Homo sapiens: one gene and its partners. The protein of the gene in region 1 purifies or fractionates together with the protein of each later gene. This does not show direct contact. Each region holds a gene or a part of one and is shown in the gene's direction. Other genes may lie near its edges.

Region 1 (5,055 bases):
CCATATTACCCAAGCTGGTCTTGAACTCCTGACCTCATGATCCGCCTGCCTCAGCCTCCCAAAGTGCTGAGATTATAGGGGTGAGCCACTGTGCCCGGCAATAATAATTTTTTTTTTTTTTGAGACAGAGTTTTGCTCTTGTTGCCCAGGCTGGAGTGCAATGGTGCAATCTCGGCTCACGGCAACCTCCGCCTCTCATGTTCAAGCTATTATCCTGACTCAGCTGGGATTACAGGCACCCACCACCACACCTGGCTGATTTTGGTATTTTTAGTAGAGACGGGGTTTCTCCATGTCGGCCAGGCTGGTCTCGAACTCCTGACCTCAGGTGATCCACCCGCCTTGGGCTCCCAAAGTGCTGGGATTACAGCCCTGAGCCACCATGGCTGACAATAATAAAAAATTTTAAAGCAAAACTAAAGATTTATAAATTGTAAAATGCGGTTGTAACAAGTATTTACTGTACCAGTAAATATGAAAAATATTAATGTCCTCACACACATGGAGGTGGCTTGTGAGTGGTGTGAGCATTTCATGGTCAGAGTTTGGCAGTTGGGCGAGAGACAGGATGGATTTTAACTCGAACATCGCAGACACAAAACTGAAAACCCTGATGCGGTGCCTGCACCGTTGCCTCCTTTCCTGCAGCTGTAAATGGGACGAGTAATTCCATCCCCCTCCCGCTTCCACCCTTCAGCACAGACGCAGTCTTCAGCAAGGAAGTGCTGGGAACGCCCTGGAGTGAACCCAGGAAGATGCCTGCAGTGGGTGCCAGGGCCCCTCTCCACCGTCCCTGCTGGGCTTCGGGGCCACGCCCGACTGCTGTGAACGGCCTGCGGAGCACCACGTGCGACGGCTGGAGGCGAGAGGTCTGCCTTTGATGTGGCTGTTGGTGCAGGGCCTGTGGTGCCTTCCGCAGCGGAAATGGCGCGCCGCCCGGGGAGGGCGGGAGCAGCGTCCCGGGTGCCCCTGTGAGGATGAGCGACGAGATGACTGGAGGGTCCCTGAAGACCTCACTAGGGTGCCCCCAGCCGGTCCGCTCCCAGGAAGCGACACCCCCACAGCCCCAGGGCTGCAGCTGAGGGGGTCGCCACTCTGGCTGGGCGAGGCTGGGCCCTTGGGGGCAGGCGCCAGAGTGGCCTCAGGCTCTACAAGATGCCTGAAAACACCAACCTCTCCAGGGCTCACTAGCATTGGACGCTTTCACGCTCTGCCCTGGCCGGAAGCCCCCTCACCCCGCGCGATGTGCAAACTCCTGCAGGGCTCACTCAGTTTCCAGAACTTTAATTATTGGAAAGTTCTCCCTGGTCCAGCCCCCAAATCTGCCGTGAACGTTGACAGCTGAGTTGCTGCTCCATGCGTGCTTTGGCTGAGAGCAGAGGGGACCCCTGTCCTCCCTGAGCTGCTGACGAGGGGAGGGGTGAAGGGTGGGGCCTCTGGAGAGGGCAGGTCCCGGGGAAGCTCCGGACTCCTAGAGGGGCGGCCAGGTGGGGGCCCTGGTGACCAGGACAGACTGTGGTGTTTTTTAACGTAAAGGAGATCCGCGGTGTGAGGGACCCCCTGGGTCCTGCACGCCGCCTGGTGGCAGGCCGGGCCATGGTGGGTGCTCACGCCCCCGGCATGTGGCCGCCCTCAGTGGGAGGGGCTCTGAGAACGACTTTTTAAAACGCAGAGAAAAGCTCCATTCTTCCCAGGACCTCAGCGCAGCCCTGGCCCAGGAAGGCAGGAGACAGAGGCCAGGACGGTCCAGAGGTGTCGAAATGTCCTGGGGACCTGAGCAGCAGCCACCAGGGAAGAGGCAGGGAGGGAGCTGAGGACCAGGCTTGGTTGTGAGAATCCCTGAGCCCAGGCGGTAGATGCCAGGAGGTGTCTGGACTGGCTGGGCCATGCCTGGGCTGACCTGTCCAGCCAGGGAGAGGGTGTGAGGGCAGATCTGGGGGTGCCCAGATGGAAGGAGGCAGGCATGGGGGACACCCAAGGCCCCCTGGCAGCACCATGAACTAAGCAGGACACCTGGAGGGGAAGAACTGTGGGGACCTGGAGGCCTCCAACGACTCCTTCCTGCTTCCTGGACAGGACTATGGCTGTGCAGGGATCCCAGAGAAGACTTCTGGGCTCCCTCAACTCCACCCCCACAGCCATCCCCCAGCTGGGGCTGGCTGCCAACCAGACAGGAGCCCGGTGCCTGGAGGTGTCCATCTCTGACGGGCTCTTCCTCAGCCTGGGGCTGGTGAGCTTGGTGGAGAACGCGCTGGTGGTGGCCACCATCGCCAAGAACCGGAACCTGCACTCACCCATGTACTGCTTCATCTGCTGCCTGGCCTTGTCGGACCTGCTGGTGAGCGGGAGCAACGTGCTGGAGACGGCCGTCATCCTCCTGCTGGAGGCCGGTGCACTGGTGGCCCGGGCTGCGGTGCTGCAGCAGCTGGACAATGTCATTGACGTGATCACCTGCAGCTCCATGCTGTCCAGCCTCTGCTTCCTGGGCGCCATCGCCGTGGACCGCTACATCTCCATCTTCTACGCACTGCGCTACCACAGCATCGTGACCCTGCCGCGGGCGCGGCGAGCCGTTGCGGCCATCTGGGTGGCCAGTGTCGTCTTCAGCACGCTCTTCATCGCCTACTACGACCACGTGGCCGTCCTGCTGTGCCTCGTGGTCTTCTTCCTGGCTATGCTGGTGCTCATGGCCGTGCTGTACGTCCACATGCTGGCCCGGGCCTGCCAGCACGCCCAGGGCATCGCCCGGCTCCACAAGAGGCAGCGCCCGGTCCACCAGGGCTTTGGCCTTAAAGGCGCTGTCACCCTCACCATCCTGCTGGGCATTTTCTTCCTCTGCTGGGGCCCCTTCTTCCTGCATCTCACACTCATCGTCCTCTGCCCCGAGCACCCCACGTGCGGCTGCATCTTCAAGAACTTCAACCTCTTTCTCGCCCTCATCATCTGCAATGCCATCATCGACCCCCTCATCTACGCCTTCCACAGCCAGGAGCTCCGCAGGACGCTCAAGGAGGTGCTGACATGCTCCTGGTGAGCGCGGTGCACGCGGCTTTAAGTGTGCTGGGCAGAGGGAGGTGGTGATATTGTGTGGTCTGGTTCCTGTGTGACCCTGGGCAGTTCCTTACCTCCCTGGTCCCCGTTTGTCAAAGAGGATGGACTAAATGATCTCTGAAAGTGTTGAAGCGCGGACCCTTCTGGGTCCAGGGAGGGGTCCCTGCAAAACTCCAGGCAGGACTTCTCACCAGCAGTCGTGGGGAACGGAGGAGGACATGGGGAGGTTGTGGGGCCTCAGGCTCCGGGCACCAGGGGCCAACCTCAGGCTCCTAAAGAGACATTTTCCGCCCACTCCTGGGACACTCCGTCTGCTCCAATGACTGAGCAGCATCCACCCCACCCCATCTTTGCTGCCAGCTCTCAGGACCGTGCCCTCGTCAGCTGGGATGTGAAGTCTCTGGGTGGAAGTGTGTGCCAAGAGCTACTCCCACAGCAGCCCCAGGAGAAGGGGCTTTGTGACCAGAAAGCTTCATCCACAGCCTTGCAGCGGCTCCTGCAAAAGGAGGTGAAATCCCTGCCTCAGGCCAAGGGACCAGGTTTGCAGGAGCCCCCCTAGTGGTATGGGGCTGAGCCCTCCTGAGGGCCGGTTCTAAGGCTCAGACTGGGCACTGGGGCCTCAGCCTGCTTTCCTGCAGCAGTCGCCCAAGCAGACAGCCCTGGCAAATGCCTGACTCAGTGACCAGTGCCTGTGAGCATGGGGCCAGGAAAGTCTGGTAATAAATGTGACTCAGCATCACCCACCTTAGCCCCTTCCAGAAAGTGCTTGAAGTTTGCGGGTGGAGGGATGGGGGAGGGGAAGGTGGGCAGGGGTGAGAGTCGAGAGGGAAGAAAGGAGTCCCGGAAAACGTGGCTGCCTCCCCAGGTGAGGAAGCCACAGCCCCAGAGGCCCCAAATGCCTGGGGAGTGTGGAGGTCCCAACCAGGCTTGCGCTGACCCTGCTTCTCGGTTTTCTCTCCGTGCTGACAAACCCCAGCCTAGAGGAAGGACGAGCAGGTGCAGCAGGGCCCCAGTCCCCTCCACTCTTGACGCTGTCCTAGCTGCAGAAGAGGCGGGTTCCCAGCCTTCCCTGTGACCACATGTGACCTCAGCCGGGACACATCCCTTTGCTGGCCCTGGCCCTGAGTCCCTCCAGCCATGATGAGCCGTGAATGGGACCATCCCTGTCCACTCTGAGATGCCTGGAAGGGGGCTCAGTGCAGGTGGGCTGGGGGCTGGGTCTGCTGTCTGCCCAGCACTGCCATTCTGGGAGTAGGCAGGTGGGGAAGGGGTCGGGGGTGGAGGGTCTGTGTTCAGCCAGTCCTGGGAAATGCTTGATGTGAGGCTTCTGAAGATGGCAGTGAGGCAGAGGCCCAGCCGGCGGAGAAGTCCCTGGGAGTGAGTACCTGGGGATGAACTATGCTGCCTGGTGCTGGGGAGCAGTGGCGCCCCTGGGCCATCCCTCTGCTGAAACCTGGGCGTCTCGCTGAAGAGACCACCTCCATTTCCTCTGCAGAGACTGAGCACTCAGTCAGCCCCCTTCCTGGGACAGGCTCAATGGAGGCTGCAGGGCCATCAGCCGACTCCTACGCAGGCTCAGTCAGCAGCCCCCTGGCCAGCCCCACCCCTGACTGCCGGCCTCAGAACTGGGAGCTGCTTCCTGGCAGGGCCCGCCTCTGCTGGGAGACCGGACGGTGAGTCAGCCTTAAGCCCGGCACCAGACCCCTCTGAGGATGGAGCAGGAGCTGGCTGCCCTGAGGCTGCAAAACTTCTTCCCTCGTGGAGACAGGGAGGCACCTCAGACACTCACCCCGGACTCCCTTGAACAGGGACAGGGAGGAACCCCAGGCAGCTAGACCCCAGCAGCAGCCACACGAGCACACTGTGGGGCAGGGAGGGGCATCTCTTGAGAACAAAAGATCCATTTCTCGACTTTCCAAACTGGAGAGCTTCTTGAGAGAAAAGAGAGAGACAGGTACAGGTCCACGCCACCCACACACAGCCCTGTGCACACAGACCGGACAC
Region 2 (3,500 bases), about 33 Mb from region 1:
AGGCGCGCTTCATGCTCAGGACCTTGAATGCTTTGTGCCTTGATATTGCCTTGCCACACTTCCCAGCCTCCTTCAAGTCTTTGTATCACCTCCCTGAAGTCTACCTTGGCCAACCTGTTTATAATTGCAAACCACTCCCCAGGCTTAGCACTCCCCATTCTTTCCCTGGGTTTCTTTTTTTCCTTTATGCACTTCTCACCATCTTTATACTAATCTGCTTTTTGTGTCTGTTGTCTATCTCCCTCAATGGGCATAGAAACTAGACTATAATAACGACTTAAGTATTTGTTTAATGAATAAAGCACAGAGGGTAATAACTTGTCAAGTCACAGACCCATCCAATGGAGGGGCCCTGTGTTAAACCTAAGCAGCCTGGCTTCAGAGTCTGGGCTCTTAATGACAATGCTAGGACCAGAACACTCACTAAACTGCTCTCCTTTGTGTGTCTCTTATGTGAAGGAAATCCCTTTTTTTTCTCTATTTTCATGATCAAGTCTGATGATTTGAAGAAGAGAAGAGAGCCTCACATCTCCACTTTAAGGTAAACAAGTAATCATATTTGTTGGGTGCTAATATGTGCCAGGCAGAGTAGTAAGTGCTTTAAATGTTACAACATTGTGTATGTCATATAATTCTTGTTGACATTGTTAACCCACTTTGTAGAGGAGGAAAGAGACCGAGAAATTGAGTTTGCATAGCTTAAAATTAAGGGAGCTAGCATACAAACCTAAGTCTGTCTGATTCCAAGGCCCAAGTTCTCAGTGATAAAATGCTCAATCTTGTTAGTAATCAAGGAAACAGAAGTTAACACTGGAGATACCATTTTTCACATGTTAGGTTGGTAAATATTAAAAATAAAAACCCTAGTGTTGACAGATATAGATAGATAACTTTATACACTGCTGTAGTCTTTCTTCAAAGATGGTTTTGAAAGATGTATCAGAACCCTTAAAAGTATGCATATCTTTTTGTAGAACAGTTTCACTTATAAGAATTTATCCTGGGGGCTGGGCGTGGTGGCTCACGCCTGTAATCCCAGCACTTTGGGAGGCCGAGGCGGGTGGATCACCTGAGGTCAGGAGTTCAAGACCAGCCTGACCAACATGGAGAAACCCTGTCTCTACTAAAAATACAAAATTAGCTGGGCGCGGTGGCACATGCCTGTAATCCCAGCTACTCAGGAGGCTGAGGCAGGAGAATCGCTTGAACCAGGGAGGTGGAGGTTGGGGTGAGCCGAGATCGAGCCCGTTGCACTCCAGCCTGGGCGACAACAGCGAGACTCCATCTCAAAAAAAAAAAAAAGAAGTTATCCTGAGAAAATAAGGATATGCTCAAAGATTCCATACAAGATTACTTATTGTAATATTGTTTATAATATTGAAAAATTATATACAAATTTGATCGCCCATGGAGATTTAAACATAATAGTACAAAACATAAAGTGGAAACTATACAACCATTAAATATGATATACATGAGTTTTGACACATGAATGTGGTAGTTATCTATGTTCTCAATTCTAAGAAACTTTTAACATTTTAACACCTCTGGGATCTAGTGTCTCACACAATCACTTTTGTGTCCTACTTTAATTGACAGCATTTTTTCCTTAGTGATATATGAAATAATGATACTTAACACATTTTTGTCAAGAGAAAAAAATAATACACACAATTTGATGCTTTGTTGTTTTTTCTGACCAATGGATTCACATCACGTGATCTTATTTTAAAAAGAGATACACACACCTACATTTGGATGTCTGTGTGTATAAAGTAAAAGATTTGGAAAAATAGAGTATTTAACTCCTGCTAGTAGGAATACAGATTTTTTTTTAATAGTTTTTTACTTACATGGGATTTTTTTCCTAGTTTCTATAATGAATAGATGTTGCTTTGTAATAGCTGTTTTTCACCTATATGGTATAAATTATTTATTCTCATTATATTTTTTCTCTGCAGTACTTCCATGTATTATAGGCAGCTTGCACAATTTCTTCTAAATCCTGAAGTATTGCTTGTGTGTTAATTGTAATGCATTATGTTTCATATTTACTTAGACTTTTTTCCCCCTAAAGAAAGATTATCATGAATTAAGGCATTATCCCCTTAGTTCACAACACCACTCTGCTAAGCATTTCATGTGGGACTGAGTTACATTCCACACTAAAGGCTTACAGCCAGATGGTGAGCAAGCTGCAACTCCGTAATCGTTACAGAGAGCTGATCTTTTTATTTCCCACTTGGATTCTGTGAGTTCCTTCATGAATACAATTAACAAATGCTAACAATGACAAAATAAGCCTGTCCTTGTGACACTTTCATAGAATGAATAGAAGAGCTTTTTCTGGAATTTGTGAAAGCTAATGTTACCAGTAAAGGATTTAAGACTATTAGTTGCTTACAGTATCAAGACTTTGAAGAAATATTTATCTCTCACATTATCTGAAGCCTGGTTCAGCAGTTTGCTATCCTGACCCATTTTACATAATTTCCAACTCTGCCTTTAAAAGTTACATGGCACCTCTGAGTGGACTGACTGAGCACAATTATTTTATGGAATGTTCTTTAAGCTTGTTCGCAGCTGATAATGGAATTTTTTGGTTTTGATAGTGTATAATATAAAAAGGTATTTGGTAATGAAATCTTAGAGATCAACCTGGAGATTTGATACTTAGTTATAAACAGGACAGTTCTATTTTATGGGAATTTCAGTAATGTGCATTTGGAGTAGGATGATCCAAAAAAATATTAAGTATCTTTGTAAGCGTAACTTGAACTAATGTAAATCTTTTTAAAATGTTTTAATTCCTCAAGGTTAGTAATAATTCATAATTTCAAAGTTGATTGGCTGAGTGAGTTATAAATTGTGTTAAGAGATTTCTACATGGAGAGCCAGTTTAGCTGGTAAATGGAAACGTTCACCATCTTCTATTGGTATCCTGTTAGCATCAGAACTTCTATGAAGGATTTCACTCATTATTATGCATTTAATTCAACACTCATCATTATTGCCATTTAAAGTTGTTTTAATCTTCTAAAACAGTGCCACCCAAGTGTTCATTAAATGGCGGTACCAGTATTGGTGCTTGTGATTTATAATAAATGTATATTTGGTCTTGGTCTCTATTCCTGGCACAGACCTCTCTGACCTCCTGCAAGGGAAGAGAGGCTGGAGGTTGAGTTAATCACTAATAGCCAATCACTTAATCAATGATTCCTTCATAATGAAGCCTCCATCAAAAACCCTAACCAAAGGAGTTCAGGATTGCTGAACTCCCATGGAAGTGCTGGGAGGGTGGTGTACCTGGGGAGGACGTGGTGTGGAAGCTCCACACCCCTTCCCCATACCTCACCCTATACATCCCTTCCGTCTGGCTGTTTCTCAGTTCTGTCCTTTTATAATAAACTGGTAATCTAGTAAACAAACTTCTTCTGAGTTCCGTGAGCTATTCTAGTAAATTATCAAACCCAAGGAGGCAGTAGTGTGAACCTCCAGTT
Region 3 (4,125 bases), on another chromosome or scaffold:
ACAAGTTGATAAATGCAGCAAACCACGCTGGCACATGTATACCTATGTAACAAATCTGTACATTCTGCACATGTATCCCAGAACTTAAAATTAAAAAAAAGAAGAAGAAGAAAAATGGTGTTCAAAATATTTCATTTTACAAGTGGTAATGAAACTGAGCTTTTAAAAAAAAATCAGTGATGAGATGTCATTTCCAGGAATCCTCTTTTGGCACCACCAGCTTGAGTTCATCACACTGCCACCAGCCTGCATGGGTGCTGCATTTCCCCTGCTGCTGTATAATGGTGGTTAAACTATGGTTCTGGGGCACCAGGCTTCCTGACCTTGAAGGCAAGCTCCTCTATTGACTAGCATATGACCTTGGGCAGTTCCTTTAACCTTCCTAAGTTACAGTTTCTCATCAGTAAAATGGAAATGGTGGCAATACCTGTCTAATATGGCATATGGAGAGTAGTAAAAGAAATGACTAGTGCAGTAAAGAACATCTCAGTGCCTGCCACACAGCAAGTGCTTTCTCTCCAGATACCAGCGTGACTTCTTTCTGTCTCATCTCCTTTAGATCTTTACTCCACTGTGAAGCCATCTTTGACCATCCCATTTAAAAATGCACCCCCTACCTCCAAACATTATCCCATTTCCTCCCTTCTTTTTTGTCCACCGCACTTCATCACTATCTCACATACTATGTATTTTAGTTATTTGTTATGTTTATGCCTGTCTCTTTAGTAGAATGCAAGCACCAAGCACCTGTATTCCCAGATCAATGCCTGGCATGCAATAAGGACTCAAGGGAGGAAGAGATGAGCCAGCCCTGCTATGCTGAAACTACTCCCGGCCCAGTGCTAGCCCTTTGGGACCCCGTTTGAACGTCTGACTGCCCTTTGACACCTGGACCAGTGGGCAGGAAGAGAAACTAAAATCGAGGTAGTAATTTAAGCAGCACATTATGGGGGGGCTCTGGCCTTACTGAACTTGAACTCAATGCTGCCGATTTTTCATAAGCCTTGATTCATGATACCCCACTCCCTCTTGCTCAGCTAATGAGCTCCTCCTGTTACCCAAAGTTGACCCGAGGGACCCACTGCAGAGCCCGGGATGGCAAAGAATTCTCTGACTCAGGCTCTGACCCGGACTCGGAGGGGCAAAGTGAGCAGGAAAGGGATCTGCAAAGCTCACCTCCTCTTGGCCAAGGCGGCCTCGCGCTGGGGAGGCGGCTCTCGCGCTGGGGAGGCGGCTCCCGCGCTGCAGCCCTGCTCCGGCGCCCCGCGCCGCCTCCGCTGCGGGTCGGGAGCGCGCGTCTCCGCCGCACCTCGGATCTAGGAGCTACTCGCCCGGCCCTGGGCGGTGGGAGGCGGCGGCGGCGGCGGCGCTCGCGCACCTCGGAGGAGCCAGGAGCCGGAACCAGGGCCGAGCCCGCGGGCCGGGGCTAGCCAGCCGGTAACCACGGGCGGGACAGGGCGCCCAGGGCGGAGCAAAGCCCGGGCGCTGGGTGCGGGGCGCGTGCAGCTTTGGTCAAGGCAGGGCTTGCTTGGGTTTGGGGGCAGTCTTTAGTTTAGAGGGGCTAGAGAATGGGGTGGGAGGAGGAGAATTGGGGTGTGAGGACGCCCACGGGAAGAGTGTGGACCCCGTGGAGAGCACCAAGTTTAAAACCTTCCCGGCAGCCCGCTGATGTGCGTGTGGACGCCGCTGGGCGTCCGAAAAGCCTGGAAGCGGCGGCGCTCGGGGCTTGGGTGGGCTTCCTCCCCTCCGCTGGGCCCCAGCGGCCGAGGCACACCCTTTCCCGCTGGTGAGAAAACTTTCCTTGCTGCGGCCCTCCTGCCGCCTTGGTGCCCTGCAACTGAGAGAGCCCCCCTGGGCTGGGGAAATGTGCTGGCTCCTGGCCCCGGGCGCGCCTCCATGCACTGGGCAGGGTTCTCAGATGATGCCTGGCTTGACAGTTGCTCATTCATTTTGTTTGGACTGGGGAGCCTGCTCGCAGGTCGTGTTACTGATTAGAGGGAAATAGGGGTTTTACACTTTCCCCGCCGCCCCACCCCGCAACCCGCCCCCGCTCCCCCCGCCCGCCCCGCGCCCCGTGCCCCGTGCCTTTCCCATCCTTTCTGTGTAATTAATTGAGGAAGGCAAAGAGTAGTCTCTGCAGAAACCTGTTTGGAGGCGTTGTGGTTTCCACAGCATGTTAGATGGCACAGAATCTCAGCCACTACTCTGCATTTAGTTTGACAACAGTGAAACACTCTGGTGTTTTGAAGGCAAAGGAAGCTTGAGGGAATGTGTCCAGGGAGACGAGAGAAGGGAACTCTTATGCATAAATTAATTCTTACGAAAACCCCAAAAGTAAACAGTAGTATTTTCAGTTTGCAGGTAGAGAAAATTAGATTGCGATATTAAATACGTTTTCCAAGGTGACTGCCCCAGTTAAGTAATAGTGGGGAGTAGGGGTCTGGAAGCTAGGACTGTGAGTCTAGTTTCCTTTAGGTACATTGCATGGGGTACACAGACAAGAACAGGTGCAGGAGAGTGACGAGGGCCTGCAAGGATAAGGTCAGGAAAGCCAGAGGCCACTGTGAGCTGGGGTACCCACAAGGAGTTTCGTTCTTATGAGGAAGATCATCCAGTGTTTATGGAAGAATAGATAATATTAACAGGTGATAGGAAAAGGAAGAGTTGCTTCCAGTCTGTATCTTTCTTTTCAAAGTGAGGCCAGCCTAAACCCTTTAAAGAGGGTCTCGAAGCCCGAAACTGGACTGGATTGTTCAAAACCCAAATGGCAGACGTCCTAGAGTAGTGAAAGCGGTTACAGTCATCTTTGTGCAGGTATGAGAGATGAGAATGGACCCAGGAGACTTTTTAAAAGAGGGAAACATTGAATCCTGGCAACATTCTAGAACAAATTCTTTAAGATAGCTCAAAACTACCTAGGGAAGCATTTACAAATACTTACGCCAAACCAACTCCCTTCCCTTTTCTAGCAATCTACTGGGATATAGATCAGGGTATGCTGTATCCATTGTCTTCAAATGTGGGCTGTGACTCATTAGGCTAATGATCAGTTTAGTGAGTTGCAAATAGCAGTTTTTAAAACATGAAAGCCAAGAGAAAGAAAGATAAGATATCAGAGTGCATTGCAGGAGCAAGGGAAAGTACTGTTTTGTGAAGCGCGCGCTGGTGATGCATGTGTCCTGTTCTGTGTTGCTGATCCTGCTGCCTCTGCGTGAGTGTTCATACCCATCGCTAGCTGCCCCCTTTCAGCCTTCTGAGCTAGCCCCATTCTGGTCACAGTGGGGGTCATCTTCTTTTACCTTGCAGATTATGTCATCAACATATTCTGGAAAGCTGTTCGCTTCCTCCTCCCCATTTCTGTTGGCCCCCAGATGCTGAGGTATTTTGCCAATCAGAATTCATCTCTGAATTATTTATCTGTGACCTTTTTTGATAGTCACAGTTCATAGATAACTTTTATCAAACATATTAAATTAGTTCAAATTGTATAAAGAGAATATCACATCTGTCCTTTTTAGCTTTCAAGGGAAATGTTTTCATTACTTGGAGTACAAAAAATATTGGAAGAACAATATTCTTATGATGTTTGTGTAATATATTTAAGGAACTATTATTATACCAAGCTATGATATTTGGAAGATTACCAGATAATGCCTCATTGTGTCATTTTCTGTCTAGTCTTTTTTTTTTTTTAAATTTTTCTCATTTTGGCTTTTTTTCCTAAATGAAATATCAAGGTAGATATATGAGAACCTCTCCATAACTCTTGAACCCACTGGTTACTTCAAGAGTATGAGGGTTCATCATGCAAAGGAATATGAAGAAATGTTTTAATAAACAAAATGAAAAATAATATGAGGGTTGAGCAAGGAGGCCTTGTTGAATAGATTTACTTCCTTCATCCCAAAGCTAGTGATGGTGTATCTGAAATTGGTGGGTTCTTGGTCTCACTGACTTCAAGAATGAAGCCACGGACCCTTGCGGTGAGTGTTAACAGTTCTTAAAGATGGTGTGTTCTGAGTTTGCTCCTTCTGATGTTCGGACGTGTTTGGAGTTTCTTCCTTCTGGTGGGTTTGTGGTCTCGCTGGCTTCAGGAGTGAAGCTGCAGACCTTCACGGTGAGTGT
Region 4 (3,500 bases), about 85 Mb from region 1:
GGGGTGCTGCAGACTTCCTGCCATGCACAGGACGGCCCCCCCACAGACAGGAATGACCCAGCACCAGATTTCAGCAGGTTCAGAAACTGCTTAAACCGACTAGACTTGAGGCATCTGGGGCTGTCTCTGAACCAAAAGCACGTACCCCGTCTTCTGTGGGCAGGAAGAAGGAGAGGCAAGCCCTGGACCACTGGGCTTTCATGTACAAATAGGAAACAGCCCCTATGTCTACTGGAGAAGCGGGCTGTGTCCACATAGCCACCTCCACGGCCCCTCAGCCTGGCAGGGGAGGAGGCAGCCTCCGCAGATGGGGCCGCTGACCCGCTGCCTTTCTCTCCACCGCCTGGGGTAGGTACAAAGACGATGCCGACAGCCCCACCGAGGACGGCGACAAGCCCCGGGTGCTCTACAGCCTGGAGTTCACCTTCGACGCCGATGCCCGCGTGGCCATCACCATCTACTGCCAGGCATCGGAGGAGTTCCTGAACGGCAGGGCAGTGTGAGTCCCGCGGGCGGCTGGCACCGGCCTGGCTGGGGGCCCCAGACTCCTGGGGGAGGCTTCTGTCCACCTTACTAACCAGAGGGAGAAAACCAAACCGTGCTCTTTGACCATACTCCCAGGACTTTACCACGATGTGAGGGGTTTCTCCCACCCCAGGGACTCCCCACTTTTCTGCGGGAACCAGCTGGGGTCCTTTGACTGGTTTCAGTTCCAACGCTGCCTGGAGGTCATGCAACCCCTGCACTTTGAGGGCCCAGTCCCACAAGACTGCCCCACTTCAGATGCCACTCATAAGCCCCCGCTGTCACCTGAACTTCTCAGCAACCAGCCATAAATCAGGCTCCCACAGTCCCCTCCTCAGGCTTGATGAGTTGCTAGTGTGGCTCACAGAACCCAGGGAAACACTTGGCTGGTGTTTGTTGGTTTATTGTAAAGGATTCAGATGAAGAGGTTCACAGGGTGAGGTGTGGGGGAAGGGGTGGGGCGCACCACCTTCCTCGTATTCAGCAAACCAGAAGCTCTCCTGAAAACCCCATTTCAGGGCCTTTTCTGGAGGCTTCATCACGTAGGCAGGATTGATGATTAACTCCATCTCCAGCCCCTGTCCCCTCCCTGGAGGATGGGGCTGGGCTGAAATTCAGTTCCAGGTTTTTGTTTTGTTTTTGTTTTGTTTTGTTTTGAGACGAAGCCTCACTCTGCTGCCCAGGCTGGCGTGCAGTGGCACAATCTTGGCTCACTGCAACCTCCGCCTCCCGAGTTGAAGCAATTCTCCTGCCTCAGCCTCCTGAGTAGCTGGGACTACAGGCACGTGCCACCACGCTTGGCTAATTTTTGTATTTTTAGTAGAGATGGGGGTTTCGCCATGTTGGCCAGGATGGTCTCAATCTCTTGACCTCATGATCTGTCCATCTCAGCCTCCCAAAGTGGTTTTTGTTTGTTTTTGAGACAGAGTTTCGCTCTTGTTGCCCAGGCTGGAGTGCAATGGTGTGATCTTGGCTCACTGCAACCTCCGCCTCCTAGGTTCAAGTGCTTCTCCTGCCTCAGCCTCCCGAGTAGCTGGGATTACAGGCATATGCTACCATGCCTGGCTAATTTTGTATTTTTAGTAGAGACGGGGTTTCATCATGTTGGTCAGGCTGGTCTCAATCGCTCGACCTCAGGTGATCCACCTGCCTCGGCCTCCCAAAGTGCTGAGATTACAGCCGTGAGCCCCCATGCCCGGCCCACCTGGCCCAGGTTTTTGTTTGTTTTTCCTCGGGAGCTCTTAGACGACACTTCCAAGTCTCTAATCATGGCTTGGTCTTTCTGGCAGCCAGCCACCTCCAGGAGCCAAGAGTCACCTCACTGGCACATAAGACACTCCTACCACCCGGGAAATTCCAAGGGTTTGGAGTTCTGTGTTGGGAGCAAAGGTCAAGGAACAAATATTAGAACAAAAGAGGCTCCTAGCACCCCTGTTGCTGAGGAAATGACAAGGGTTTTAGAGGACTCTGTGTCAGGAACTGGGGCTGGGACCAAATATTTATTTTTTATTGTGTCATAATTAGATATTTGTACTTTCAGAGGTTTTATTTGAGATAAGGGTCCTTCTGGCCCTGAAAGTTTGAAAACTGCAACTTCAGCAGGAGCTGGCAGGACTGCCTCCAGGCTACAAGGGCACATGTGCCCCAAGTGGCTTTAGAGACAGGCAAGAGCGTGCCCCCTGCCTTCCTGCACTGGAGCACACCGCTCAGTGGTCAGCTTTGCATCTGGGGATAGGGTGTGGTTGAGAGCCTAGGCTTTGAATGCTGTCCCCGCTGAGTGGCTTGGGGGCACATGACTGCTTGTGCCTCTGTGTCCTCAGCTGGAAGTTCGGGTGGGTGGTGTGAGGAGGGGACCATGTGTCCTGTGCACAGCCCCTCGCGTGACAGGTGCTCTTGAAAGGAGCCTGAGTGCTCGAGTTGAGGGGCTGGTGGAGACGACTTATGTGGGGAGGTTCTTAGGGACCTGCCACCAGGTGAGGCCGCCCTTGGGCTCTGGCCTTGGGCTCCCCGGCAGCCAGGGCTCCTCCTGTGGAGCAGCACTTTGGGGAGGAACAGGTTCCTTTTTCTAGACTTTGTTCTTTGAGGCTCTACCTTGCCCCGGCACTTGATTATATTTCTTTAATGACACTAGTAATGCATGCCTGTGTGCTATGACAGGCGTCGAATTCTTGGGCGTAGGAGCATTTGGAGTGACCAGGGCAGGCCCCTCTGTCCCCTCCTTGCACCCCACTGCTTGGGGTTGAGTGTTTGACACCCACGGGGCCTGGTGCCCTCCTCGGGCCTGGCCGACATGGTGGAGGAGCTGGGTTGTGGCGAGGTGTCCAGGGGCTGCCACAGAGAGGGTGTGGGCTGAGGACACAGGCCAGTGTAAGTTGTCTATCCGCTGCCCCCCAGTGCTCCAGCTGTCAGGGGCTGGGTGACCATCTCAAGTGCACTTGAAGAGAGGGTCCCGCTGCTACCAGAAAGGCTAGAGAGAGCAGAGAGGGTGCCCTGCCAGCCCTGGCTGGTGTCACCCTCTCCTAGACCCCTGCGGGCTAGTGATGAGAGAAATGCCACAGTCCCCCCCTCTCAGGACCTGGCACAAGGCCAGCTTCCCCTCCCAGCAGGAATCACAGAGCAGGAACAGCTCCAGTGCCACTGTCCCCCTCTGTCAGGACCTGGTACGAGGCCTGCTTCCCCTCCCAGCGGGGATCACAGAGCAGGAACAGCTCCAGTGCCACTGTCCCCCTCTCTCAGGACCTGGTACGAGGCCTGCTTCCCCTCCCAGCAGGCATCACAGAGCAGGAACAGCTCCAGTGCCACTGTCCCCCTCTCTCAGGACGCGGTGCAAGGCCAGCTTCCCCTCCCAGCAGGGATCACAGAAAAGGACCTGGAGGCTCCAGGACCTGGAGGCTGTGCCCAGGCACCCGGACACCATCCAGCCTGCCAGTGCTCCATCCATTTGAGCTGCAGGGCAAGCCACCCTCCCTGCCTCC

Evidence for each region.
Region 2: the proteins of MC1R (region 1) and OGFOD1 fractionate together in Homo sapiens (co-fractionation; one large-scale study listed by BioGRID). This does not show direct contact.
Region 3: the proteins of MC1R (region 1) and MRAP2 purify together in Homo sapiens (co-immunoprecipitation; one study listed by IntAct). This does not show direct contact.
Region 4: the proteins of MC1R (region 1) and MGRN1 purify together in Homo sapiens (affinity purification with western blotting; 3 studies listed by BioGRID). This does not show direct contact.

Annotation. Positions count from the first base shown.
Region 1 is NC_000016.10:89,917,179-89,922,233, forward strand, and holds MC1R (melanocyte-stimulating hormone receptor), read left to right. Parts: upstream 1-1,777; 5' UTR 1,778-2,080; coding exon 2,081-3,034; 3' UTR 3,035-3,794; downstream 3,795-5,055. Other genes in the region: guanine nucleotide-binding protein subunit gamma 4-like, read left to right, coding at 698-869, 1,673-1,777. UniProt on the Homo sapiens protein: Receptor for MSH (alpha, beta and gamma) and ACTH. The activity of this receptor is mediated by G proteins which activate adenylate cyclase.
Region 2 is NC_000016.10:56,458,054-56,461,553, forward strand, and holds part of OGFOD1 (prolyl 3-hydroxylase OGFOD1), read left to right. Parts: intron 1-459; exon of another isoform or gene 460-485; coding exon of another isoform or gene 486-494; coding exon 495-541; intron 542-3,500.
Region 3 is NC_000006.12:84,032,447-84,036,571, forward strand, and holds the start of MRAP2 (melanocortin-2 receptor accessory protein 2), read left to right. Parts: upstream 1-1,325; 5' UTR 1,326-1,437; intron 1,438-1,672; exon of another isoform or gene 1,673-1,786; intron 1,787-4,125. UniProt on the Homo sapiens protein: Modulator of melanocortin receptor 4 (MC4R), a receptor involved in energy homeostasis. Plays a central role in the control of energy homeostasis and body weight regulation by increasing ligand-sensitivity of MC4R and MC4R-mediated generation of cAMP.
Region 4 is NC_000016.10:4,652,326-4,655,825, forward strand, and holds part of MGRN1 (E3 ubiquitin-protein ligase MGRN1), read left to right. Parts: intron 1-352; coding exon 353-499; intron 500-3,500. UniProt on the Homo sapiens protein: E3 ubiquitin-protein ligase. Mediates monoubiquitination at multiple sites of TSG101 in the presence of UBE2D1, but not of UBE2G1, nor UBE2H. Plays a role in the regulation of endosome-to-lysosome trafficking.